Homo sapiens: one gene and its partners. The protein of the gene in region 1 purifies or fractionates together with the protein of each later gene. This does not show direct contact. Each region holds a gene or a part of one and is shown in the gene's direction. Other genes may lie near its edges.

What was found.
Region 2: the proteins of SEPTIN7 (region 1) and TOP2B fractionate together in Homo sapiens (co-fractionation; one large-scale study listed by BioGRID). This does not show direct contact.
Region 3: the proteins of SEPTIN7 (region 1) and RGS3 purify together in Homo sapiens (co-immunoprecipitation; one large-scale study listed by IntAct). This does not show direct contact.
Region 4: the proteins of SEPTIN7 (region 1) and SON fractionate together in Homo sapiens (co-fractionation; one large-scale study listed by BioGRID). This does not show direct contact.
Region 5: the proteins of SEPTIN7 (region 1) and CHORDC1 purify together in Homo sapiens (affinity purification with mass spectrometry, with the first as the bait; one large-scale study listed by BioGRID). This does not show direct contact.
Region 6: the proteins of SEPTIN7 (region 1) and TRA2B fractionate together in Homo sapiens (co-fractionation; one large-scale study listed by BioGRID). This does not show direct contact.
Region 7: the proteins of SEPTIN7 (region 1) and PRCC purify together in Homo sapiens (affinity purification with mass spectrometry, with the first as the bait; one large-scale study listed by BioGRID). This does not show direct contact.

Annotation. Positions count from the first base shown.
Region 1 is NC_000007.14:35,870,557-35,874,056, forward strand, and holds part of SEPTIN7 (septin-7), read left to right. Parts: intron 1-2,109; coding exon 2,110-2,210; intron 2,211-3,084; coding exon 3,085-3,219; intron 3,220-3,500.
Region 2 is NC_000003.12:25,598,908-25,602,407, reverse strand, and holds part of TOP2B (DNA topoisomerase 2-beta), read left to right. Parts: intron 1-1,182; coding exon 1,183-1,308; intron 1,309-2,878; coding exon 2,879-2,973; intron 2,974-3,500. UniProt on the Homo sapiens protein: Key decatenating enzyme that alters DNA topology by binding to two double-stranded DNA molecules, generating a double-stranded break in one of the strands, passing the intact strand through the broken strand, and religating the broken strand.
Region 3 is NC_000009.12:113,582,227-113,585,726, forward strand, and holds part of RGS3 (regulator of G-protein signaling 3), read left to right. Parts: exon of another isoform or gene 1-16; intron 17-1,223; coding exon 1,224-2,201; intron 2,202-3,500. UniProt on the Homo sapiens protein: Down-regulates signaling from heterotrimeric G-proteins by increasing the GTPase activity of the alpha subunits, thereby driving them into their inactive GDP-bound form.
Region 4 is NC_000021.9:33,546,038-33,549,537, forward strand, and holds part of SON (protein SON), read left to right. Parts: intron 1-175; coding exon 176-342; intron 343-3,438; coding exon 3,439-3,500. UniProt on the Homo sapiens protein: RNA-binding protein that acts as a mRNA splicing cofactor by promoting efficient splicing of transcripts that possess weak splice sites.
Region 5 is NC_000011.10:90,216,550-90,220,049, reverse strand, and holds part of CHORDC1 (cysteine and histidine-rich domain-containing protein 1), read left to right. Parts: intron 1-1,865; coding exon 1,866-1,915; intron 1,916-3,500. UniProt on the Homo sapiens protein: Regulates centrosome duplication, probably by inhibiting the kinase activity of ROCK2. Proposed to act as co-chaperone for HSP90. May play a role in the regulation of NOD1 via a HSP90 chaperone complex. In vitro, has intrinsic chaperone activity.
Region 6 is NC_000003.12:185,921,015-185,924,514, reverse strand, and holds part of TRA2B (transformer-2 protein homolog beta), read left to right. Parts: intron 1-530; coding exon 531-719; intron 720-2,388; coding exon 2,389-2,504; intron 2,505-3,327; coding exon 3,328-3,411; intron 3,412-3,500. UniProt on the Homo sapiens protein: Sequence-specific RNA-binding protein which participates in the control of pre-mRNA splicing. Can either activate or suppress exon inclusion. Acts additively with RBMX to promote exon 7 inclusion of the survival motor neuron SMN2.
Region 7 is NC_000001.11:156,766,081-156,770,334, forward strand, and holds the start of PRCC (proline-rich protein PRCC), read left to right. Parts: upstream 1-1,454; 5' UTR 1,455-1,691; coding exon 1,692-2,159; intron 2,160-4,254. UniProt on the Homo sapiens protein: May regulate cell cycle progression through interaction with MAD2L2.

The DNA of each region.
Region 1 (3,500 bases):
TGAATAAATGATCTGTCTTTATAAAGGAGATGGAAGTGAATTCAAGATATTGAGATGTTAGATTTGACTGGGTTGTCCTTTGGCTAGAAGATCACCAGATAAAATGTAAACCTCCTAAACTAGATGAGATGATACCATTAAACATTTTTTTTGGCCCAGCACTTTGGGAGGCTGAAATGGGAAGATCGCTTGAACCCAGGAGTGAGGCTGCAGTAAGCTATAATCTGCCATGCACTCCAGCCTGAGCAACAGAGTGAGACCCTGACTAAAAAAAAAAAAAAAAAAAAATGTTTTTCCTTTGGTTCTCATGATCTCACACTGATGAATCTGATTGTTTTCTCTGAGTTATTTTGCCTCTCTCATGTTATTAGGGTAACCTGATAATAGACATGTTATCTTAGTTGTGTGGTATGTGACAGTGATCTCCTAAATGATGTGCATCAATCATTGATACTGAGGATGATCAGAAAATATTACAACTGTTATTGATGTTTACTTTTTTAATCTACAGATTAATGATAATGCATATTAATACTTAATATTCAGATTGCCAATAGTATATATTTGGTGGATAAATATCTTTTGGATCTGCAAAATTTTCACTTGATAGTTTATATCAGGATCAAAGCAGTTTAAAGAACATTAAAAGATAAGAATTTGGCATCTCATTTCTCTAAAAGATAAGTCATGTGTGTCCACATCTCAGGCAATTTTTTTCAGTTTTAATAAGTTTTATTCCTCATAATAAAATTTTTTTAACAGAAAACTCTTGATTGCTGTAGACCTCTGCTGTGTATTCGGTAGTCACTAGCCATATGTGGCTATTTAAGTTAATTCAAATTAAATAAAATTAAATATCAGCTCCTCATTTGCAGTAGTCAGATTTCAAGGACTAAGTAGCCACATGGACAAGTGGAAGGTGGTGTTCAGTTGCTGCTCATAATAGTTGATACCCTAGGATTTGGAGATGCAGTGTGGATACACAACAATTCCATCATCTCAGAAAGTGTTATTGGATAGTGTGGCTACAGACTTTTCTTGCTCAGCAATCTTAGTCTCCGCATGTTAGTCTCTTCATGCATCAGGTAGCATCTATAAAACATGCCAAAAGGAAGTAGGCTATCTCTAAAAGTGTCCCAAACTTTTTGTCTTGTAAATTAGCTTATCAGCATACTTGGAGCCTCTAGCCTTAATAAGGACTTGTTATCCTTATTAAATGTGTTATCAGGAGAAAGCCTGTCTTTTTCTGGAGGAATTATTCCCTTTTCATTTGAATCCGTGTTTGCTTTATCTTGGGTTCCTGAAAACTGATATTTTGCATTTAACAGCAGCATATGCCCAGGATGAATGATAATACATCTTCTGATACAGAGCTTGAGATTACAGAATGTCTTAAATTGTTCCAGGAACTGTTGTTATCATTTAAGTCCAATAATCAGTTAGTAAGGTTTCACCCTACCAGAATACACTTTTTTTTAAAATAAAAACTGTCTGGACTTTTGCTGATTACATTGTCCAGAATGTGGAGTATCACATTTGAGAAAAGGATTGGATCCTAGCCATAACATAAATACAAGGGTAATACATCCATGCTGAGAAAGATTAAGGAATGATAGTAAGTTTATTTGAGTGAGTGGTTGGGGCCAAACTTGATAGAGAATAGTCCAGGAAGACATTTACTGTAAATGGTAGATTAGATGTTCTTCTCTGATTAATTACATTTGAACTCTGTGAATTATTAAATCACTCAAACTGCTTATTTGTATTATTAGATGCACATTTAAGTTATATAAGTATTACATGTCTTTAGTGGTGATCACTATTTTATCAGTTCCTCTGTCTGTCTTTATACCAAGTATGAGTCATAAACCCAGTATGAATTTGCCAAGAGATTGGCAGACTATTTGTATATATGCTTTTCTTTCAAATAATCTGGATTTCCAATGCCCGCTATCATCAATTCTAAAGGTAATGTGGTAGTAGGTAGATTTAGTTTGCTAACAGTTTCCCAGTTGGTTTTGATAAACTCGAACGTCCCTACCATCACCCCTTGTAGGAAATCACTGATGTAATGTATGATATTAACATCTGCACCAATTACTCTTACAGGTGGAACAATCCAAAGTTTTAATCAAAGAAGGTGGTGTTCAGTTGCTGCTCACAATAGTTGATACCCCAGGATTTGGAGATGCAGTGGATAATAGTAATTGGTAAGAAGGGTTTGTCCTCACAACTTTGCAGTGCATTTGGGGTACTGGGGTGGTTAAACTTTTTCTTCTTAACATTTTAAAACTTCTCATCTTAGCAAAGGTCACCAAACTTCAAGCAACATGACTTGGGTTTGTATACCAACTTTGCCACTTATCTGACAAAGTTGTTTAACTTCTTTGAACCCATTTACTTTTCTATAAAATGGAGATAATACCTATCATAAAATTGTTTTTAAGACATATTCTAAAATAACATAGGTAAATAGAAGAATTCTCATTATTGTAAGAAATTTAAAACTGTTCACTTTAATTTTATTCATTTGTATAAATTCTATCTCAATCCTAATTTAAACCTGATATTTAGACTTTCAGTTTTTCTGTAAGTCCTAAGTGAAGAAAACAACTATGAAATTTTAGTCTGAAGTAATTATCTTAGTATTTTATAAATAATACTTTTATTTTTGTTTGAATTCACATTGTTTTTGAGGTAATTTTCTGTCAACTCTTAAAACTCCCAAGTTCACCATGAAGTTTTTTTATTATTTAAAGTAATCTCTCATTTGAAATTTTAAACTGCATATAATTGTTTTCATATTATGAAGTGTGTTATTAATACACTTATTAGTGCAAATAATATGCTAATATTTAGCTGTGTTTCGACAGTAAATAGTTTATTTTCTTTCATTTGGAAAGTTTTGAATAATGAATATTTATTCAACATAATTTATATTTTTGAATATATAGAATAACTTGACATATCTTCTACTGGTAAATTCATTTTGCCCATTTGAAAATACTGATTATTGTCCTTTAACAGTCATCAGTTAATTCATATGTAGAATTGCAGCTTGTTTTGTTTATTTGCGTTCTATAGCTGGCAGCCTGTTATCGACTACATTGATAGTAAATTTGAGGACTACCTAAATGCAGAATCACGAGTGAACAGACGTCAGATGCCTGATAACAGGGTGCAGTGTTGTTTATACTTCATTGCTCCTTCAGGACATGGGTCAGTACCTTGATACTTCTGATTCCTTTTTTGTTGTTGTTGCTTACTGTTACCTTTATGTGCATACTTTAGTAATCTTTAAGTTTGTGAAGTACACACAACTATAGCCATTATGAAGTACTAAATTTCATGTAGAAATGTCTTAGTTGAAAAGCCATTTTAAGTCCTATATAAGCTAACAGTGATTTTACTCCTTAGTTCTTCATTCATAAGGATTTTCCCTGCTTCATGAAATAAACAGTGTTGCCACCATGGTTTGAGGTCTCAATGTGGCAAATTTA
Region 2 (3,500 bases), on another chromosome or scaffold:
TTTTTTTTTTTGAGACAGAGTCTTGCTCTGTCACCAAGGCTAGAGTGGAGTAGCGTGATCTTGGCTCACGGCAACCTCCCTTGCCTGGGTTCAAGCGATTCCTCTGCCTCATCCTCCCAAGTAGCTGCGACTACAGGCACACGCCACCTCACTGGGCTAATTTTTTGTATTTTTAGTAGAGATGGGGTTTCACCATGTTGGGCAGGCTGGTCTCGAACTCCTGACCTCCAGTGATCCGCCTGCCTTGGCCTCCCAAAGTTCTGGGATTACAGGTGTAAGCCACTGCAACTGGCCTTATTTATCAGTTTTCACATAGAACTGCAGATAAAGCTGTAAAACAAGGTCTATTTTTCAAAATTCCAGAAAGCAAAGGCCTGGTATCAATTGTCTACTTATCTAGGATTTTATATTTCTTTCCACATAAAAATGCCAAGTCTGGATTTCAGCTTTTGAATGGAAGTGAGTTGGTTTCTATTCATTGTATTCGAGGATCCCATACATTTTTTTCTCTAAAACATTCTAAAAGTTAGGACTTAATCTGTGGTTATATCTGGGTTATAATTAATTTATCAAATATGCTACTCTTTTGTCATGACTATTCTGTATTTAAAAGTTACTGCTTAATTTATTTTAATGGCTCTTCCTTAAAATGTCTTAATTGTATTACCTAAGGGCAAATTATACATAATTAAATAAAAAGCATTTTGTCATCTATGAGAAATTGTTTGCCTTTACATTGCCGCCAAGCAGAGAGAAACCATTTCATTATTTAAGGCGACTCAATTTTTTTTTTTGAAGATAGAGTTTTGCTCTTGTTGCTCAACTGGAGTGCAGTGGCGCAATCTCAGCTCACTGCGACCTCCCGGGTTCAAGCGATTGTCCTGCCTCAGCCTCCCAAGTAGCTGGGATTACAGGCATCTGCCACCACACCTGGCTAATTTTTTTATTTTTAGTAGAGATGGGGTTTTACCGTATTGGCCAGGCTGGTCTTGAACTGCTGACCTCAGGTGATCCACCCCGCCTTGGCCTCCCAGAGTGCTGGCATTACAGGTGTGAGCCACCACGCCCAGCCAGGCAACTCAGTTTCTAATCAGCTATAAGAAATTCCATTTATATAGGACTCTCTTCAGTTTGGTTTGTTGGTAAGTATATTGACCTGTGAAATGGAAATTTGCTTACTAGGAAAACCGTCTTCAGATACAGTCCCTAAGCCCAAGAGAGCCCCAAAACAGAAGAAAGTAGTAGAGGCTGTAAACTCTGACTCGGATTCAGAATTTGGCATTCCAAAGAAGACTACAACACCAAAAGGTGAGGATTATCTTCTTATAACCCTTTAAACATATGCTGTGTGGAAAAGATTGAATTTTTTCTACCTCATTGAATTTAGAGAGGCTAGGTATCTATTTTGTTTTAAATTGCTTTACTCCTCAGTAAGCAGTGTGTCTAGGAATCAGTGCTGAATATAGTCCAAAGGAGGCATAGCAATTTAGTTCAGTCACTTTGTTTTACAAATTAAAAAATTGAGGCTCAAAGAGGTTAAATAAGAATCCCTAAGAATGGTCCAAATTCTCCCCTGCAGCCAACTCACTGAAAGTTGTTATTAAAAAGTCAGATCAGTACTCCACACTAACTGTGACACTTATAGTAATGGGCTAGATCCAGGACTCTTAGGCTAGAACTTTTTTTCTCACCTAAGAAATAACTGTATTCAGGGCCACACAAGGAACAGCACCAGTTCTCCATGGCATCCCCTCTTTAACTCCAGAATCTGGAAAGCCCTTGAAGATGTTTTGTAAAATATGTTTGTAAGACATGATATGAGGGTAGCTCATGCTGTGAGGGTAGCTGCTCTACCTTTTATTCAACTGAAGGATATCTTCCTCAGTGTGTTTCTTATATTTCTTTAAGGAGTGGTTGGGATAAGGAGCTGTAGACCTACAGGGAAATGGGGATAATAGGGTGGAAAAGAATCACAGTGACTGGGAAAGTAGTACTCAAGATATGCAGGATTGAAAGCCTTTATAAATTCAAAAATGCTATTTCCCTGATTCATTTGATCAAATATGACATCCCAAGATTATTTAAGTCTATCTTCGTACTTGTCCAGTCTAGCTGTCAAGGGATTTTAAAGATATAAAATTGCTATTTAGTTGTTTTATTTCATTGGCATCATTGTGGGATGGAGAACATCTGGCCCCTACTTAAATATTACCTTTTCTCCTTCCACCTCCAATGATGAGAATAAGAGGTTAGGTAGGTGAAAAAAAATGCTGCATGTGCTGAGTCTAGGTCTGAGAAGGAATATGTATTTGACATTTTATAGTTAATACTGGTGGTTCTCATATGGTGCCACTTAATGTGGGATATGCAATTGGTTGTTACTAGTCTTTGATAAGTAAAACGGAGTAAACATTTAGACCTTTATAATAATGTGTTACTAAAACAGCATGTGATTACATTTTTTAGTAATTTGTGTTCTATGGTATTTTTAAAAGTATTGGCCCATGACAAATTAGAAATGAAAAAAAATATTTAAATCCCATGTAATTTAAGAAGTACTCTTCCAAGATATTTCCTTTTCAGGCTCAAGGACCAAATAGCAAATACAAATGTTTTATGTATGAAGGGATTCATCATTAAAATTTGTCTTTGGGACTTTCCCACTAGTTTAAATGTATTTGTCAAAAAGTCTTTGGTCATGTCAACCCCAGAATTGAAATGCTACTGCCAAATTGTTTATAATCACTCATAGTAAGAGATCAGGACTGCAATGCTCCACTGATTGGGCATGCCAAAGAAATAAACTACAATGTTGTGGCATTTATCTTTTTATATTGCACTTAACCACGGAAGAAAAAACCTTTTGTATCATTTTAAGGTAAAGGCCGAGGGGCAAAGAAAAGGAAAGCATCTGGCTCTGAAAATGAAGGCGATTATAACCCTGGCAGGAAAACATCCAAAACAACAAGCAAGGTAACCGGGAACATCATTGCATATTAGTGCATGGCTTTTTAAAAAAAGATCTGTAAGTGACTTAGTTTGCTTATGACTATAGTCCTGGAACAGCTTTCCACCTAGCATCTCGTATCAATATGGGGCTTGTATTTGGTTAAGAAATTATTCAAGTATAAATTTATATAATCAGGACTATTTCCTAAATAACTGTGCTATAAATTAACCTACTTAGAACCTTCCATTTCATCCACTGAACTGTAGTAGTGTTATGCTACCTAAATATTAGACTCTTTCAGACTAAAATATTATTTTTCAGACTAAAGACTGTTTCCTTTTAACTTGGATTTATTTGACCAGGGCTAATTTGATTTTTTTTTTAATTGAATTCATTTGACTGTGGCTGATTTTTCCAATTAGTCTGACCCTTTTCCAGAAGTACACTATTTCTTTTAGGTAAATGAATGACATCAGCTCCCCCGCATCCCTTTTTATGTTGATTTCCACATTGACCTCTTCCATTCAGTCATCTTCTATGTCTCAGGTCC
Region 3 (3,500 bases), on another chromosome or scaffold:
AGCTGTACAATAGTGGGTAAGTCACCGGCCTTTGGGCTCAGTTTTCTCATCCATCAAATGGACATTAATGATTTCTACAATGAGAGCTCTTAACCCATGTTCTGGGGGTACTTACCCCTGAAGTTTTCTGCCAGTGTGCGCGTGTGCCCGCAGGTGCACACATTCCCAAGCATCTGTTCAGTTCCCGAGTATGGGTGAGGTCTTTCCCTTTCATTAGTTCTCAGCAGCTATGGCTTCTTGAAGACAGAACCTGGGCTCTAAATAAATAGTTCCAGCTCCGGCATTCCTGGTCCTTGACTGGGAGGGGCCCACCCCAGACTTGAGAACTGCCTCCCTGTGTGGTTGTGGCACCATGGACACTCCTGACTTTCTCGGGGCCCCAATCTTCTGGTGACATAGCTGCTATTCAGACTTTCATTAAGAGAAATGTTTTTCTCTTTGCACATGAAATCTACTGTCGAAACTCAGCAAAACCCCCTAGGATCCCGAGGGTTGTGTGTGAGGCAGGAGATGCTGTGTTTTTTGAGGAATCCCTGAGCTTCCTCCAAGCAGTTTAAAAATCCCTGGGTGGGTGATTCTTCAGGGAGGTTCCGTGTGTCTGCGACATCTGGTGAGTCCAGGTGTGGACAATATTTTAAAGTTCCGGTTTCATTCCAGTTTAATAGTTTCAAAAAGATACTTAAGCGTTCAGAGCACATTCTTGTTTGAATGACTCATTAGGATTTTTTAAACTTGAGTTCAGGTAGAAGACACCCTGGGCTGGGTTCAGTGACTGCCCTGGCTTGGTTCTGGTCCATAAGCAGAGACTGCCTGGTTCTCCTTTATCCCCAGAGGCAACTTTGACCCTGTTTCCTTTTCTGTAAAATGGGGACAGTGATGCTTCTTTTATAGGGTTGTCGGGAAGGCCACATAAGAGAGTGGGGTCAAGCTGGCCTGGCACCTGCCAAAGCAGGAGCTAGATAGATAGTGGTTATCTCTCCCTCTTCTCCTATAAATGACCAGCTGTGTTTTTGATGGAGCAGAAAGTTCAAGCAAGAAGACAGGGTGAGAATTGTTACCCAGCTAAGTCAAAGGGGCTTTGGGGGTTCCATCTGGCACCTCAGCTTTCAGACTGGGGGCCCGGGGTTCAGGCCACTGCCTGATTTCATGTCAGCTCATGCATGGTGTCTGGCATCTTGGAGCCTCCTCTTCTGAACTGTTCTTGTTTTCTTTTTGTTTCCCAGATGTTTGAGACGGAGGCAGATGAGAAGAGGGAGATGGCCTTGGAGGAAGGGAAGGGGCCTGGTGCCGAGGATTCCCCACCCAGCAAGGAGCCCTCTCCTGGCCAGGAGCTTCCTCCAGGACAAGACCTTCCACCCAACAAGGACTCCCCTTCTGGGCAGGAACCCGCTCCCAGCCAAGAACCACTGTCCAGCAAAGACTCAGCTACCTCTGAAGGATCCCCTCCAGGCCCAGATGCTCCGCCCAGCAAGGATGTGCCACCATGCCAGGAACCCCCTCCAGCCCAAGACCTCTCACCCTGCCAGGACCTACCTGCTGGTCAAGAACCCCTGCCTCACCAGGACCCTCTACTCACCAAAGACCTCCCTGCCATCCAGGAATCCCCCACCCGGGACCTTCCACCCTGTCAAGATCTGCCTCCTAGCCAGGTCTCCCTGCCAGCCAAGGCCCTTACTGAGGACACCATGAGCTCCGGGGACCTACTAGCAGCTACTGGGGACCCACCTGCGGCCCCCAGGCCAGCCTTCGTGATCCCTGAGGTCCGGCTGGATAGCACCTACAGCCAGAAGGCAGGGGCAGAGCAGGGCTGCTCGGGAGATGAGGAGGATGCAGAAGAGGCCGAGGAGGTGGAGGAGGGGGAGGAAGGGGAGGAGGACGAGGATGAGGACACCAGCGATGACAACTACGGAGAGCGCAGTGAGGCCAAGCGCAGCAGCATGATCGAGACGGGCCAGGGGGCTGAGGGTGGCCTCTCACTGCGTGTGCAGAACTCGCTGCGGCGCCGGACGCACAGCGAGGGCAGCCTGCTGCAGGAGCCCCGAGGGCCCTGCTTTGCCTCCGACACCACCTTGCACTGCTCAGACGGTGAGGGCGCCGCCTCCACCTGGGGCATGCCTTCGCCCAGCACCCTCAAGAAAGAGCTGGGCCGCAATGGTGGCTCCATGCACCACCTTTCCCTCTTCTTCACAGGACACAGGAAGGTGAGAAAGCTAAAGGGGGAGGGAGAAGGATACATGCAATGTGGGGAGGGCTGGCCCAGGGGCTGCAGGGAATGAGAAGTCACCATGTTCCACCCCCACTATCCTGGCAGCCTCCCAGCGAACTTTCCACCTGTTGGACAGAAGATAAAACTGAGGCCCAATGGGACCAAGAAGGCAGAGCATGGACTTAAACACATGACTTTAGGATTCCAGATGCTGTGTTCTTATAGCTCCACTGGTCCCCACAGAAAGCAGAGCAGGTGTAGCTTAGCCCAGGCCATTGTGTATTTGGATTTAAAAGATCTGAGATAGTAGCTGGAGAAATAGAGTTACAGCCTAGCCAGACTAGAAATCCATCAGCCAGTCACAATGACAACACACATTTATTCCGTGTCCACATTATCCTAAGCAGTTTACATTAACTCATTAACTCTCACAACAGCCCTTTGAAGTAGATAGTATTTTTGTGCCCATTTTACAGCAGAGGAAACCGAGGCAAAGAGAGGTTATCTAACTTGCTCCAGGTTACACAGTGTATCAGTGTCTGAACTAGAATTAGAATCTGGTTCCAGGGCCAGTGCTCTTAACCAACCACCACACCGTTTGCCTCTCGTGAATATTTATATGTAGATGAATAAGTATTTATGGATTTCCTGCTGTGTACCAGGCCCTGCGCTCTGCAACATGGCAGGAGCCACAGAAGTGTGTGAGGCTGGTCTCAACCTGAGAGAAATAAGTTAACTGTGTGAGCCTTGAAAGTGGCCTAACAGTGAACAGATTGCGCCATGATCTTGAAGCCTACCAGCTAGTTTGGGTCTGGGCTCTGTTTCTTACTATGTGGCTTTGGTTGAGTCACTCAACTCCTCTGAGCCATAGTTTTCTTCTCTGAAAAGTAGGGGTTAATAGCACTCACATCCCAGAATGGTTGAGGATGAATGGAAGAGGCTGGTGCCTGATAACACTAGCCGCTTGAGAGGCGGCCCTCAGGGAATGCTGGGCCCCACTCCTTCTCTTGAAATGCAACAGCCAGTGCAAGGTGTTGGTGTGAGGCTAGGTGAGTAGGGGTGCTCAGTGCCCATGGAGCACAACTGACTCAGAGATCTAGAACTTCAGGAGGACAGACCCCAGGGCCTAAAGCCATCAGGGAAAGCTTCTGGAGGAAGATACCTCTCAGCTTGGCCTTGAAGGATGAACAGGATTAGAATAAACAGAGAGGTAGAGGCAAGCATTCTTTGGCTAGAGCAGAGCATTCCTAAAGGGCAGATGCCTGGCACAGGTGCTGCTATTCCTCCCTCCAAC
Region 4 (3,500 bases), on another chromosome or scaffold:
TGTCCAAAATATAAGTAGATCATGGTAAGAAGCATTATTAGTGGTGAATATCTAAAATAGGAAAAAGGTAAAACATCTGACAGTCAGTACAACATATGATTATTGTAATTAATTGGATTTTTTTATTAATGGTATGATAAAATATTAATGAATTTCGATAACTTTTCATGTCAAGTGGAAGGAATGAAGGCCAGCTGAATGGTGAAACAAATACACCCATTGAAGGAAACCAGGCGGGTGATGCAGCTGCCTCTGCCAGGAGTCTACCAAATGAAGAAATAGTGCAGAAGATAGAGGAAGTACTTTCTGGGGTCTTAGATACAGAACTACGATATAAGCCAGGTAAGTTGGAGATAATTAACTGTCTCAAAAATTTTCTTTTAAGATTTTTTTGAAATTTGAAGGTTAATGTTAGTTTTTGACTTCAGTATTTAAGATATTTATTAAATTAAAAACTTTAGGCTGGGTGCGATGGCTCACGCCTGTAATCCCAGCACTTTGGGAGGCTGAGGTGGGTGGATCACCTGAGGTCAGGAGTTCCAGACCAACCTGGTCAACATGGAGAAACCCCCATCTCTACTGAAAATACAAAAATTAGCCGGGTGTGGTGGTGGGTGCCTGTAATCCCAGCTACTTGGGAAGCTGAGGCAGGAGAATCGCATGAACCCAGGAGGCGAATGTTGCAGTGCGCTGAGATTGCGCCATTGCACTCCAGCCTGGGCGACAAGAATGAAACTCCATCTCAAAAAAAAATTTTTTTTTCAGTAAATTTAAGCTTTTGTTTAATTGATTTAATGAAGACTTTCTTGTTTAAATTTTCCTTCCATACTTCCACTGGAAAACAAACATTGATGTACTTGTTTACTCTGCTGGTAGAATATAATTTTTATTTTTGACTTAGTTTCAGTTTATTTGATTCAGTTTCTTTTTCTTTTCTTTTCTTTTTTCTTTTTTTTGAGACAGTTTCACTCTTTTTGCCCAGCCTGGAGTGCAATGGCGTGATCTCGGCTCACCGCAACCTCCGCCTCCCAGGTTCAAGTGATTCTCCTGCCTCAGCCTCCCAAGTAGCTGGGATTACAGGCGCCTGCCACCATGCCCGGCTAATTTTTTTTTGTATTTTTAGTAGAAACGGGGTTTCACCGTGTTGGCCAGGGTGGTCTGGTCTCGATCTCTTGACCTCATGATCCGCACACCTTGGCCTCCCAAAGTGCTGGGATTACAGGCGTGAGCCACCGCGCCCGGCTTGATTAAGTTTCTTAGTATCAGGAATTTGAGTATGGATTTTTATTAAACAGTTGTGTAAAAATACCCATCCCACTTAAACTGCAGTGGATGGAGAGGAATCATTGCTTGAATATTTAGCGTTTTTGGAATTGATTAATTGATGTTTAGAAATGAAGGATTTAGCCACAAAAATAACAGTCATTACCTTGATTTAGTTCTGGAATCAAGTTTGTAATATGGTTGGTTTGTCCTCTTTTTTGGGGGGAACTTTAGCTGTGCTTAGATTCATGACTCTCAAACAGACTTGCTTAGATTCATGGCTCTAACAACCTTCATTGAAGTATGACTTATCTAACATTTTGTATTATGAAACAAACAATTAATAGAAAATGGTAAGTTTTGCTTTGGCCTATGTCAAGTGTTGATTTATTTTCTTCTGTAGTCTTTTTTTTTTTTTTTTTTTTTTTTTTTGAGACGGAGTCTCGCTCTGACGCCCAGGCTGGAGTGCAGTGGGGTGATCTCAGCTGACTGCAAGCTCCGCCTCCCGGGTTCACGCCATTGTCCTGCCTCAGCCTCCGGAGTAGCTGGGACTACAGGCGCACACCACCACGCCCGGCTAATTTTTTGTATTTTTTTTTTTTTTAGTAGAGACGGGGTTTTACCGTGTTAGCCAGGATGGTCTTGATCTCCTGGCCTCGTGATCCACACGTCTTGGCCTCCCAAAGTGCTGGGATTACAGGCGTGAGCCACAGTGCCCGGCCTTTTTTCTGTAGTCTTAATGGCTCAGATTTCTGATGAGCTTTTTTGGGGGTCCCTAAGATTTATCTAATTTGATATTGGCATTAGAGTAAATAAATCCCATCTGGTTGTTAAAGTTGAATACTCCCATCTCTTTAGGGTATGTAAATTCAAACCTTCTTAAGTTGTAAATTAAGGACTAAGAATTTCCTCTCTAAAATCAGTATTCTTTTCTAAAATAGAAACATTTGAAAAGTTATTTATTAGTGGTTTTAGAATAGTATTGGGGGAAAATGTTATCTCTTTAGGGTATGTAAATTCAAACTTTCTTAAGTTATAAGGACTAAGAATTTCCTCTCTAAAATCAGTATCCTTTTCTAAAACAGAAACATTTAAAAAGTTATTTTAGTGGTTTCAGAATAGTATTGGGGGAAAATATTATTTTTATTAGAATGTAACGTAGGCATGATAAGGTAAAATTTGAGTTCTCTATGAATATTTTATATTTGTTATTCAGATATTTTTATACTCTGTAGAAGCAATCACTAACCTTTGTTGAAAGCTTATTCTGTGCCAGGCATTATTTGATGTACTTTGCATGTTTTAACTCACTTTATCCTCTAACTCTAGAAGACACAAGTGTGTCAGTAATTTGGCCAAGACCATTAACCTAGTAAGTGATGAACTGATTGAGGATTCAAAAGTGGCAGTCTGTTCCAGAGCCAGTGCCATGTTGCTTCCTGTATAAACAAGGGTTAATAATCGCAAAAATTATATTATGTGGGTATTTTTAATAGAAACTGTAGCAACTAATAACATGAAATATATTCAGTGACAAAAGTAGTTTAAAAGTAATTTTGCTATGATTTGAGAGCTGGAGGGAATAATTATTTTAATAGAATTTAGTGAAACATGTCTTAATGTAATTCAAAGTAAGTTTTGGTGTTTAATAATTTATTTTTAACCCAGGCATTAGTTGTGGAAAGAATTATCAGAAAAGTAGTAGTCTCCAGGTTAACTGTTTTATGAAAAATAGTTTATTTGGTAACTTTTAATTTAACGTGAGGTGTTATACTGTGGGGTTTTTTTTTTTTTTTGAGACAGAGTCTTGCTCTGTTGCCTAGGCTGGAGTACAGTGGTGCAATTTCAGCTCACTGAAACCTCGACCTACTGGGTTCAAGTGATCCGCCTCAGCCTCCCAAATAGCTGGGACTACAGGTGCGCGTCACCATGCCTGGCTAATTTTTGTATTTTTAGTAGAGATGGGGTTTCACCATGCTGGCCAGGCTGGTTTTGAACTCCTGACCTCATGATCCACCTGCCTTGGCCTCTCAGAGTGCTAAGATTACAGGCGTGAGCCACTGTACTTGGCCTGTACTAAGGTGTTTTAACATGGAATGTAAATATGGGTTTATATGATTTAATCTAACTCTACTTTGGGGAATGTCTGACAAAATTAATTTCTATTACTTTTAGACTTGAAAGAGGGCTCCAGAAAAAGTAGATGCGTATCTGTACAAACAGATCCTACTGATGAA
Region 5 (3,500 bases), on another chromosome or scaffold:
AAAACAAAAACAAAATTCATAATGTTTTAAGACAGTTTACGAAATTTGTGTTGGGCTACATTCAGAGTTGTCTGGGGCGGCATGTTGGACAAGGTTGTTGTAGAGCATTGAAAGCTAAATAGACTTGAAAGGTTGAAAGATAGTCTTTTAAGCAGATTGCAGAGGGATGAAGCTGACTGTTACCTGATTTTTAAAAATATAGTACTCCATCTTGCAAATTGCTGAGAGCAGCTTGGTCGTGGAGACCCTAACCCGGTGGTGCTAGAGGAATTAAAGACACACACACAGAAATATATAGTAAGGAGTGGGAAATCAGGGGTCTCACAGCCTTAGAGCTGAGAGCCTCCAATGGAGATTTACTAAAAGTATTCCTTACGGGAAATAAAGGGATGGGCTCTGGCTAGTTATCTGCAGCATGAACATGTCCTTAAGGCACATATGGCTCATGCTATTGTTTGTGGTTTAAGAATGCCTTAAGTGTTTTTCCGCCCTGGGTGGGACAGTTGTTCCTTGCCCTCATTCAGGTAGACTCACAACCTTCTAGCCTGGGCATCAAAGCCGTCACGAGCATGTCACAGTGCTGCAGAGATTTTGTTGATGGCCAGTTTTGGGGCCAGTTTATGGCCAGATTTGGGGGCCTGTTCCCAACACAAATTGTAATAAACCCATTTACATAAGAGAAGTAAAGATTGATGGTGTAGTGGGGAGGGAAGTATAGAATAACACCCAGTGAGAATCTAGAAAATAGGCTGTAGAACTTGAGAGTTTTTTTTGTTTGTTTTTTTTAAGATGGAGTCTTGCTCTGTCACCTAGGCTGTAGTGCGGTGGCATGATCTTGACTCACTGCAAACTCTGCTTCCCAAGTTCAAGCGATTCTCCTGTCAAGATCCTGAGTAGCTGAGACTACAGGCATGCACTACCACGCCCGGCTAATTTTTGTATTTTTAGTAGACACGGGGTTTCACCATGTTGGTTAGGCTGGTCTCGTACTCCTGACCTCAGGTGATCTGCCTACCTCAGCCTCCCAAAGTGCTGGGATTACAGGCATGAGCCACCAGGCCCACCTAGACTTCTATTTTTTTTTTTTTTTTTAATTAAAAAGTAAACTTTAATGTTGAAAATGCACACTTGGGGAAGGCAGAAAGATCACACACAAGGCTGTCACTTCACACTTGGAAGGTTGCACAGTGGCCAGGCAGAGGTGCTCCTCACTTTCCAGACAGGGCTGCCGCCAGGCAGAGGCACTCCTCAGTTCCCAGACTGGGCGGGGGCAGGGCAGAGGAGCTCCTCACTTCCCAAACAGGGCAGGGGCCAGGCAGAGGCACCCTAGTCTTCTTTTTAGTGAGGTTTGTACCTAGGAATGACTGTGTCTAGGAAAGTTAAATTACCAATTAGATACTGCAAAAAATCTTTACAGTATTTAAAATGTTGAGCCTGTTATTACAAAATGTCTTTAAGGGAATCTCTTGTGAAACCTTTATGGATGAATGCACATAAGAATACTTCAAGTTTGATAGTACATTTGTAAAAGCAGGTTTGAAAAATGATGGTCAAAATTTGGGGGTTTGAAGTTTTGGTACTAAACAAATTTTACTACCAAGATTAGGGGAATATAAAATATAATTGTTATACATAAACAATTCTGTATTTTTGTCCTTAGTCATCATATGCTTGAATTAGAATTTTTAATACTATTTTAATATAGTACACTTTGTGCTGCACGTCAAACTCAATCATTTGTACCTTTTTAAGGTACTTGCGTTTGGAAAAAGGATTAAAGGTTAACACCTTAAGGAGATGATCATGTATATATTTTTCTTCATTATAAAGAGTGGTACTTTTTTTTTTTTCTCTGTTTTCTCCAGATGCTTGCACATACCACCCAGGTGTTCCGGTCTTTCACGATGCATTAAAGGTAGGAACTATATTTTCATTTTTTTCATATCTGTGTAGTAAATTGAGAGATGTAATACTAAATCTTTATTTTCTCATCTTTTTTTCTCAGCTAGTGACTTTCTTCTTAATGACCTTTGCGGGGGAGGTGCTTTAAGCGTATACTCCACTAAAGACAAAGAAAAGACAGTAGATGATGATCTTAAGGTCTTTTCCAGTTATAAAATTGTATTTTAATTCTGGGTTTTTTTTTTTTTTTTTGAGATGGAGTTTCACTGTGTTGCCCAGGTGGAGTGCAGTGGTGCGATCTCAGCTCACTGCAACGTCCGCCTCCTGGGTTCAAGCGATTCTGCCTCAGCCTCCTGAGGAGCCGGGATTACAGGCACCTGCCACCATGCCCAGCTAATTTTTGTATTTTTAGTGGAGACAGGGTTTCATCATATTGGTCAGGCTGGTCTCGAACTCCTGACCTCAGATGATCCACCTGCCTCAGCCTCCCAAAGTGCTGGGATTACCATGCCTGGTCTTAATTTTCATTTTCTACACCCATTTCTTCACTTTTCTAATTTTGAGGGAAAATAGAGTGGTTGTATTGAATCTCAGTCTGTCACTACTGGCTAATAACAGCTCTGAATTTTAGAAAAGATTCTTATAAACATTTAGTGCCAATCTCGGGACAGACCTGTGAGTTTTCCAGCTATACTTCTTGGATGTTCTGGAGAATTGGTGGAATGTTGTTTGACTAGGTTTTTGCTGGTCATCTTTTTAAAATTCATGATAGTATGATACATTTAAAGAGTTTCCTTTGTATATCTCAAAAGATGATGCTGTGGTAGGGCTGCCATGGTTTTAGGTTCTACTTCTTTGGTTCTCAGGAACATAAGCAGTCTTAACATGTTTAAATATTGTTGGTGCCCTTTAAATGTCTAATTATACCTTCCAAAGAGTAGTTAGACTGTTTTGGCACTTCACTGTTAACACCACCAAATCTAACAAAAGATGTATTAGTCTGGTTAGTTCTGAGTGAGGAAAACAGAGAAGACATTCAGTAGGGCAAGTTGAGACCTTATTCCTCCATACATTTTTTTAGTTTTTACAAATCTTTGTTGTGGTGGAAACTGTGGTGCTGTGGAAATGTTTATTTTTCTTTTTGTGGAATTTTATTTTTCCTAGACTGCCATTTCTTCTGATATTTTTGTTTTACTGTGTCTTTTTCTTTTTTTCCCTATGCTGTTTTCCTCTTAGCTCTTAAAGGTAACCTTTGGCTGTTTTCTCTCATTCAGTTCATTCATTGGTTTTCTCAAATGTCACCTCTACGCCGATGGCTCTTACAACATATTTCTATTTATGTGTCTCATTGGCAACATCAAACCAGTTTCTAGTGTGTACCGTTTATTCCAAAAGTAGTCTGCCTCTCAACTTTACTGCTCCTAGTAATGATACTACTGACTTTCTGATCATTTGGTCCATTGCCCGTTTTTTCTCTTACCGCATTGTTAATCACTCCAAGTCTTAATGAATTCACTTTGAAGTATTTTTGCTTCTCTCTCTTTTGCAGTTGTAGTGTTTATTGTGGTCTCTATTTTATAACCATTTCTTAAAGTCCT
Region 6 (3,500 bases), on another chromosome or scaffold:
ACGATTGCAAGCTGTTTATGACCTGTAAAATGGTTTGGTACGCATCCCCTCAGGCTTCGTTTATGTACTTACTTGTGTATTGTGTTTCTGAAAAAATCGAACCATACATGCTCATCTTTTTGGCAATTCAGAGCATTCTATTGAATGGAAGGTGTGTCAACATTACAATTTTTTCTAGCTGATAGACACAGTGTGGTTCCAGTTATCCTTGTATGTCATGTTATGAATATGTGAATTTTTCTTAGAATAAATTCATAGAAGGAAAGATGCCAAGTTGCTTTTCGCCAGCACGAGTGCTTGTTTACCTACTTAATTCTAAGGTTGAAATTTTTTCTTTTGCATTCTTTCCTACCCATTCCCAAAAATACTTGTAGTACTTGCTGTAATTTTGTAATTTCTAAGCAGTGTTTGGTCTAATCATTATGTACTTTTCTTGTTAGTGACATTTTGGCTAGTATACAGCTCCCTTTTTAAACAACTTTGATTTTATGACAACTTTTCCAAAGTTTAAAACTTTTTTTTTTCCCTAGGCAAATCCTGATCCTAACTGTTGTCTTGGAGTATTTGGGCTGAGCTTGTACACCACAGAAAGAGATCTAAGAGAAGTGTTCTCTAAATATGGTCCCATTGCCGATGTGTCTATTGTATATGACCAGCAGTCTAGGCGTTCAAGAGGATTTGCCTTTGTATATTTTGAAAATGTAGATGATGCCAAGGAAGTAAGTAAAAGCCCGTTCCTTTGTAAACCATCAGTTCTATTGTTAACGCCAAGTTATCAGTGACCAATTGCTAGGATAAGGACAAGGACAAGTCAGTAATACTTCGAACTTTTTCTCCAACCTCTTGTGGAGACTCAAGATACATGCAGAATAACAAAATTTTGTATAACTTGGGGAAGTTGGTCCTACCACCTGCTTTATTAGTTGCCACCTATTGGGGTCAACTATACCCCAATTCCGCCAGGATATGTAGTCAGTGTTTACACTGGGTTCACATTCTAGAGTCAAAAATAACCAAAAGCAAAGTTATGATGCAGAAGGAAAACATTGTTCCTTTTTTGGCTAGTGAATGATGTCATATTTGGATTTTGATTTGTTTTGAGGCAGAATATAGAGTCAAGATTTGAAATGTGGGGCTAGACCCCATTTAAGAAATTCAGATTTTAGGTACATTAAGGATGGTAGCTAAAGTCATCTCCAAGTATAGAGAAGAGGAAGAACTGAGAAACACTTAATGACAAACGGAGTTTCACTCTTCTTGCCTGGGCTGGAGTGCAATGGCGCGATCTCCGGCTCACCGCAACCTCCGCCTCCTGGGTTCAAGCAATTCTCCTGCCTCAGCCTCCTGAGCAGGTGGGATTACAGGCTACCACACCCAGCTAATTTTGTATTTTTAGTAGAGACGGGGTTTCTCCATGTTGGGTCAGGGTGGTCTCGAACTCCCAACCTCAGGTGATCTGCCCCCCTCGGCCTCCCAAAGTGCTGGGGGATTACAGGTGTGAGCCACCATGCGCGGCCGCCCATTTCCTAATTAAATTTTTGCAGTAGGATCATAGCTCTCGGAAAATAGCATAAATTTTATCTTAATCTCTAGTGCCAGAAACTGCCTGGGCGTAAACACTAGCTTGAACATCTGAACTAGAAGATAGCATAGTATTGGAATTAGAAACTTAAATTCTATTTAGGTGAAAGGATGTTTCCTCAAATTATGAACAAACTTTAATGTGTTTGAAACGGGGTATTTTTATTTTTTAAATGTATGCTGTTAATACATACTTTGGGAAAAGGAACTATATGTACTTAAGGCTGTGCTTCAGTCTTAGCTTTTGGCTTCCAGAGAAGGGCTAAGAAAACTTCCAAGGGTTAAATAATGTGTTCAGGTTTCAGTCATAGGATCTCAGTCGCAACTATTTAACTCTGTTGTTTTAACCCAACAGCAGCCAGATGAATGAGTTGGGGCCCTATTCCAATAAAAGATTATTTTGGGGCATTGGAATTTGGATTTTGTGTGTTTCTTCACTTGTCATGAAATACTGTTTTTCCCCCTAGTTATTTAAATTTTTAGCTTATGGGTTATACAGAAACAGCCAGCTGGCCAGATTTGACCTACAGGCTATAGTTTGCCAATTGTGTGCTGCTTTGGAGCTGGAAATACTGTCAGGATCATAGTTAGGTAAAATAATTGTTTCAAGTTTTTATGAGTAGCTTTTACAAATGAACATTTAGTAGAGGGAACAACACATTTGTAAGTTGTAGACCTTACGTTCTGGCTAACATTAAGATAACTTAATGCACCTAACTGAAATGTCCAGTGGGATCTTACTCATAGCCACAGGATAATTAGTGGCTTTGTTCAGGATGTATGTAACAATTTATTTACCTTTTGAAGGCTAAAGAACGTGCCAATGGAATGGAGCTTGATGGGCGTAGGATCAGAGTTGATTTCTCTATAACAAAAAGACCACATACGCCAACACCAGGAATTTACATGGGGAGACCTACCTAGTAAGTTTATTTTCAAAATAAATATAATTGGCAGTTTTTCACTTGTCAAAGAAACACTTGTATTAGTGGAAAGTCTTCAGCACTTAGGTTTGTGCCATAAACTTGACTGTTGATTGATTAAATGCTCCTCATTAGGGCATTTTTCTCATAGTAGAAGTTCAACCATTACAGGTAAAACTAAATCTTAGTCAAGTCCATTTTTAAATTTTTTGTTTGTTGTTGTTTGGTTTTGTTTTTGTTTTGTTTTGAGACGGAGTCTTGCTCTGTCGCCCAGGCTGGAGTGCGATGGTGCAATCTCAGTTCACTGCAACCTTCGCCTCCTGGGTTCAAGCAGTTCTCCTGCCTCAGCCTCCCGAGTAGCTGGGACTACAGGCGCGTGTCGCAACGTCCGGCTAATTTTTTGCATTTTTAGTAGAGGCAGGTTTTCACCATGTTAGCCAGGATGTTCTCGATCTCCTGACCTCATGATCTGCCCGCCTCGGCCTCCCAAAGAGCTGGGATTACAGGCGTGAGTTGCTGCACCCGGCCTAAATTTTCTTAAATAGAGCAAAGTGATACTATTTTTGTTTCCTCTTAGAAATATGTGGGATATGCAGATTGACCTCTGGCAGGATCTGTGTGCCTCCTTAACCAAAGATTTTTAAAAATAGGTTTATATATATTGAAACAAGGGAAAGGGCAATGTTTGCTCAATATAGGTGAGAATTTTAACAGGAATAATTTTCATTTTCCAGTTAATGTGTCAGAAAAGGCCTACTAGTAGATATAAAAACTCATGTCCAGAAAGATAAGGGAGGTCACCTGAATATTTTTTTCTTCATAGTGGCAGCTCTCGCCGTCGGGATTACTATGACAGAGGATATGATCGGGGCTATGATGATCGGGACTACTATAGCAGATCATACAGGTAAGTTATGAGGTAGAAAGGTCAACGTCTGAATCTCAGTACAGTGTACAGAGCAGCACTATGCTTAAGTTTTAGCCTTTGTTAAAAGC
Region 7 (4,254 bases), on another chromosome or scaffold:
ATGCTTATGCACATTAAAGTTTGAGCACAGATTGCTCTAAGGAGCCTTCATGGAGAAGGCAGCATGGAGTTTGTCTCTGAAGGGTGGAGAGGTTGGGGAGGAGGTGCCCCATATCAGGCTCGTCTGATAGAGGATTCAAGCTTGGGCCTTTCACTGTCTCTCTGCATTGTGGTCATCATTGTCCCTCCTCATCAACCTTTCCAATTTTCTCTTCAGCCTCCTCCCAAAACCTCAACAGCCTTTTCTCTGGCTTCGCTCAACAGAATTTTCTGCAATCTGGGAACAGGGAGGTGGTGCCCACACAGAGATGAATTAGCATGTAAAGGACACACACATACAGGGCAGACAAGTAGAGGGCACTCAGTCACAGGCAGACAGGAAGGGGGCAGAGATGGGTAAACAAGAAAAGGATACAAAATCACAAGCGGACAGGGAAGGACTGGCGCACAGCAGATCATCACAAGCAGACATAAATGGGCTGGACAAGGACTCCTATAAACATGGATGGAAAGGAAGGGCACTTACAGAGACAGATGTAAGAAAGTCACATACAAAGCCATAAGAAGCAGCACTCACAGACGTAAAGGAATGTAAAGGACATCTGCAAATGGATAGGTGGGAGGCACAGCCAGGTAGGACGGACTCAAGTGATTCCTCAGAACGGTCGCCCTTTACCCCACTGAGCTGAGAAGGGATTAACCTCAAGTACCTGGCCCGGATTGTCAGAGCCTTGCCCATCTTTGTCTCACTGGTTGCTGCAGAGGGAGGCCAGGCCCCAGGCTCCAGGGTAAGGTGTGTTCCTGGATGTGCACCCCGATCCTGGTGAGGGAGATCACCTCCTCCCTTTTACGTCACATTTATTTCAACTCTTAGATGCTTATTATTAGACCTGCAGCCTCGCTTCTTTCTGGCTTGCAGCCCAATTTCGTACGGGTCCCTTGGGCCCTTGCTCTTTTTGGGATGTTTTATTCTAATTCCCAGTCCCAGCCGACTGGGAAGCTTCACCAGTTCATTTACAGATCACTTTGCCTTTAAGCAATTTTCCTCAATCCGCCAGCTTCCCAGACTCCCTTTCGTTCCCGACATCACTTGCAGTTTCTAAGAGCATCATATCTCCCAGAAATCTTAGTGGCCAAGGGGCTACCCTAGGGAACTTCAAGTACCGAAATGCTCTCCTGTCCGTCTCAGTGACTGCCGTGGTGACCGGTGGGGCTTGTAGTCACCTCGGAATTGTTAGGCGACGAAAAAAACTACTCACCCCAGGTGTCCCTGCGTCAGAGGCGGGTTTCTCTCCTGTCTCCCTTTGCTCGCCCCTAAATCCTTCCTCGGACTCCAACTCCCGCCGTGCCTTGCGCTGAGATCCCTGCGGCAAAGAACCGGGCTGTGTCCAAAGTGTTCTCTGGAAGTTGTAGTTCCTGTATTGGTGAGGCAAGGAGGAGGCGGAGTGACTCGGCGGCCATTAGCTGTGTGTAGTTGCCCGGGACTAGGAGCTTAAGTGAAGAGGTACGCCTTGTTCGGTGGAAATCAGCCGTAGCCATGAGTTTCTGCCGGGGCTAGCCCTAGAGTACGGAGCAGGCGGACTTTTCGGTTCCCCGCCCCGCCAGGTGGCGGGGCCTACTAGGCCTCCGGGCATCCCCGGTCTCAAGTAGGCCTCATCTGCCGGCAAGGGCGCCCGAAACGCGGGAGGCGCCATGTCGCTGGTTGCTTACGCCAGCAGCGATGAGAGCGAGCCGGATGAGGCTGAGCCCGAGCCGGAGGAAGAGGAGGCGGTGGCTCCTACATCTGGGCCCGCTTTAGGGGGCTTGTTCGCTTCTCTCCCTGCGCCCAAGGGTCCGGCCTTGCTGCCTCCGCCCCCTCAGATGCTGGCGCCAGCCTTTCCCCCGCCGCTGTTGCTTCCCCCACCCACCGGAGACCCCAGGCTTCAGCCTCCTCCCCCCTTGCCCTTCGGCCTGGGAGGCTTCCCCCCACCTCCAGGCGTGAGCCCGGCTGAAGCGGCGGGAGTTGGGGAGGGACTGGGATTGGGGTTGCCCTCGCCCCGAGGCCCTGGCCTCAATCTGCCCCCTCCAATTGGCGGTGCCGGTCCCCCGCTGGGGCTTCCCAAGCCAAAGAAGAGGAAAGAGCCCGTGAAGATCGCGGCGCCGGAGTTGCATAAGGGAGATGTGAGTATCCGGGGAAGGCACCCCCAAACTGTCCATCGGGTTTGAGTCGGCTGTAGGAGGGACATGTGGAGATTTCAGAACTCCTTCCTACAAACGCATCCGTGGATTCAAGGCCACTGGAATCCTCTTATAATGCGATTAATTGAGCTGAAGTTGGTCAACTTGGGGGAGTTTGGGTGTTTGCCCATGTGGGTTTCCTGAAGCTGGGCTTGCCTGCAGAAGGCCACATGTCATCATCACCTGGTACTGACAGGCCTAGGGACACTTGGATCCGCTCCCCCTTCTTTGCATCTTCACTTCAGTCCGGCTTTTTCCCCTTTCCTCCTACTGAGAACAGGATGAAATCTGGCACCTGAAGAATGACAGGAGACAGGGCTCCTGAACCTTTGCCGAACATCTGGGACAAATCTTTTCCTTGCCTCTGAACTCAAAAGCATCAGGCCTGGAGGAAAATGATAGCAATCTTGGTTTCTATTTTTGAGGGGAGTTAGAGGAGAAATCGAATATTTGTTTAGTGCAGATCATTTGCCGTTCATTGGTCCTTTCTTTCAATTATTACAGAGCTCTGGGAGGTAACATACTATTGTTTTACAGATGAGAAACAGGTGTCCAGCATGCACGATTTTACCTGGTAACAGGGCAGAGTGAAGATTAAGATTAAGGTTCAGTCTCTCTGAACCTCAGATCTGTGCCTCATATTCATCATTTAGCTATGGTCAAAGCTAGGTGAGTTAGGATGCTTGGGTACTGTTTCTAGAAGAGGCAGCGAGTCTTACCTGTTTCTATATGTGACAGTGGAAAAATACAAGGCTCCTGGAGTGAGGGCTTTGGAGATAAAGGAGAGATTAAGCCTTGGAGCAGGAACTGCTTAGAATTACTTACCGGAGAGAAATTTATTGCCCTTGCTTTTCTTCAGACTCCCAGCTCTGCCTAGGAGCCATTTCCATTCGTTGAACTTGCTGTTCCTTAAATTTCTTCTCTCAGATATCCTAATGTTCTCTCCCTCACCTCACTTGGCCTAAAAGGCCTGTTTTCGGTGAGGACTTCCCTAGCCTACTATGTATTTAAATTGCAACCTCCTATCACCTCCTCCTCCCCATTGCTCTTTGTTTTATTTTTCTCCATTGCACTTAACATCATCTGTCCTCCCACTAGTATATAAACTCCATGAAGGCAGGGATTAAAAAAAAAATTCACTGCTATAACCCTAGTACTTAAAACAGTGCCTGGCACATACTGAATACTCCCATGGATATTTTGTGAGTGAAAGAACTCCAATATGGATTTTTCATGGAAGGAGTTTCCAGAGTTTCCCTCCCAATCTTGTTTGAAACTTTCTTCCTTTTTTTTTTAAATTTTTTTTATTTTTATTTTTTTTGAGACGGAGTCTCCCTCTGTAGCCCAGGCTGCAGTGCAGTGGCACGATCTCTGCTCACTGCAAGCTCCGCCTCCCGGGTTCACGCCATTCTCCTGCCTCAGCCTCTCGAGTAGCTGGGACTACAGGCGCCCGCCGCCACGCCTGGCTAATTTTTTTGTGTTTTTAGTAGAGACGGGGTTTCACCATGTTAGCCAGGATGGTCTCGATCTCCTGACCTCGTGATCCACCCGCCTCAGCCTCCCAAAGTGCTGGGATTACAGGCGTGAGCCGCAGCACCCGGCCACTTTCTTCCATTTTATTTCCCCCTTCTTTCACACCTGAGAGTCTCTCATCCTAAGTCTAGGATCCAAAAAAAAAAAGCCTTTTATTGCTCCATGGAAACTTACTTTGGCTTTGATTTAACCTGGAACAAGGAAAGATCCCTGAATGAGACAAATAAAAACAGTCTACATGGACATGGAAAGCTCATTTCTAGCTCTGTGAAGGTAGCATTATAGAAAGTTGGGAGAGGCCGTAGAATCTGCCATTTGGGTTGGCTGAGGTGGCAGAAAACTCTGAAGACTAACACTCCCTCCTTTGTAAGCATTCACTAAATTTCTGAGGTGAACAGTAACATGGCTAATTAAAGTCCTAGCCCTTGCTGGTTGAGTTTCCCATTTTTGTTCTGTTCAAGTTGGTCTTTTGGTTCTCGGAACACATAATTCCTGCAGAAAGGTA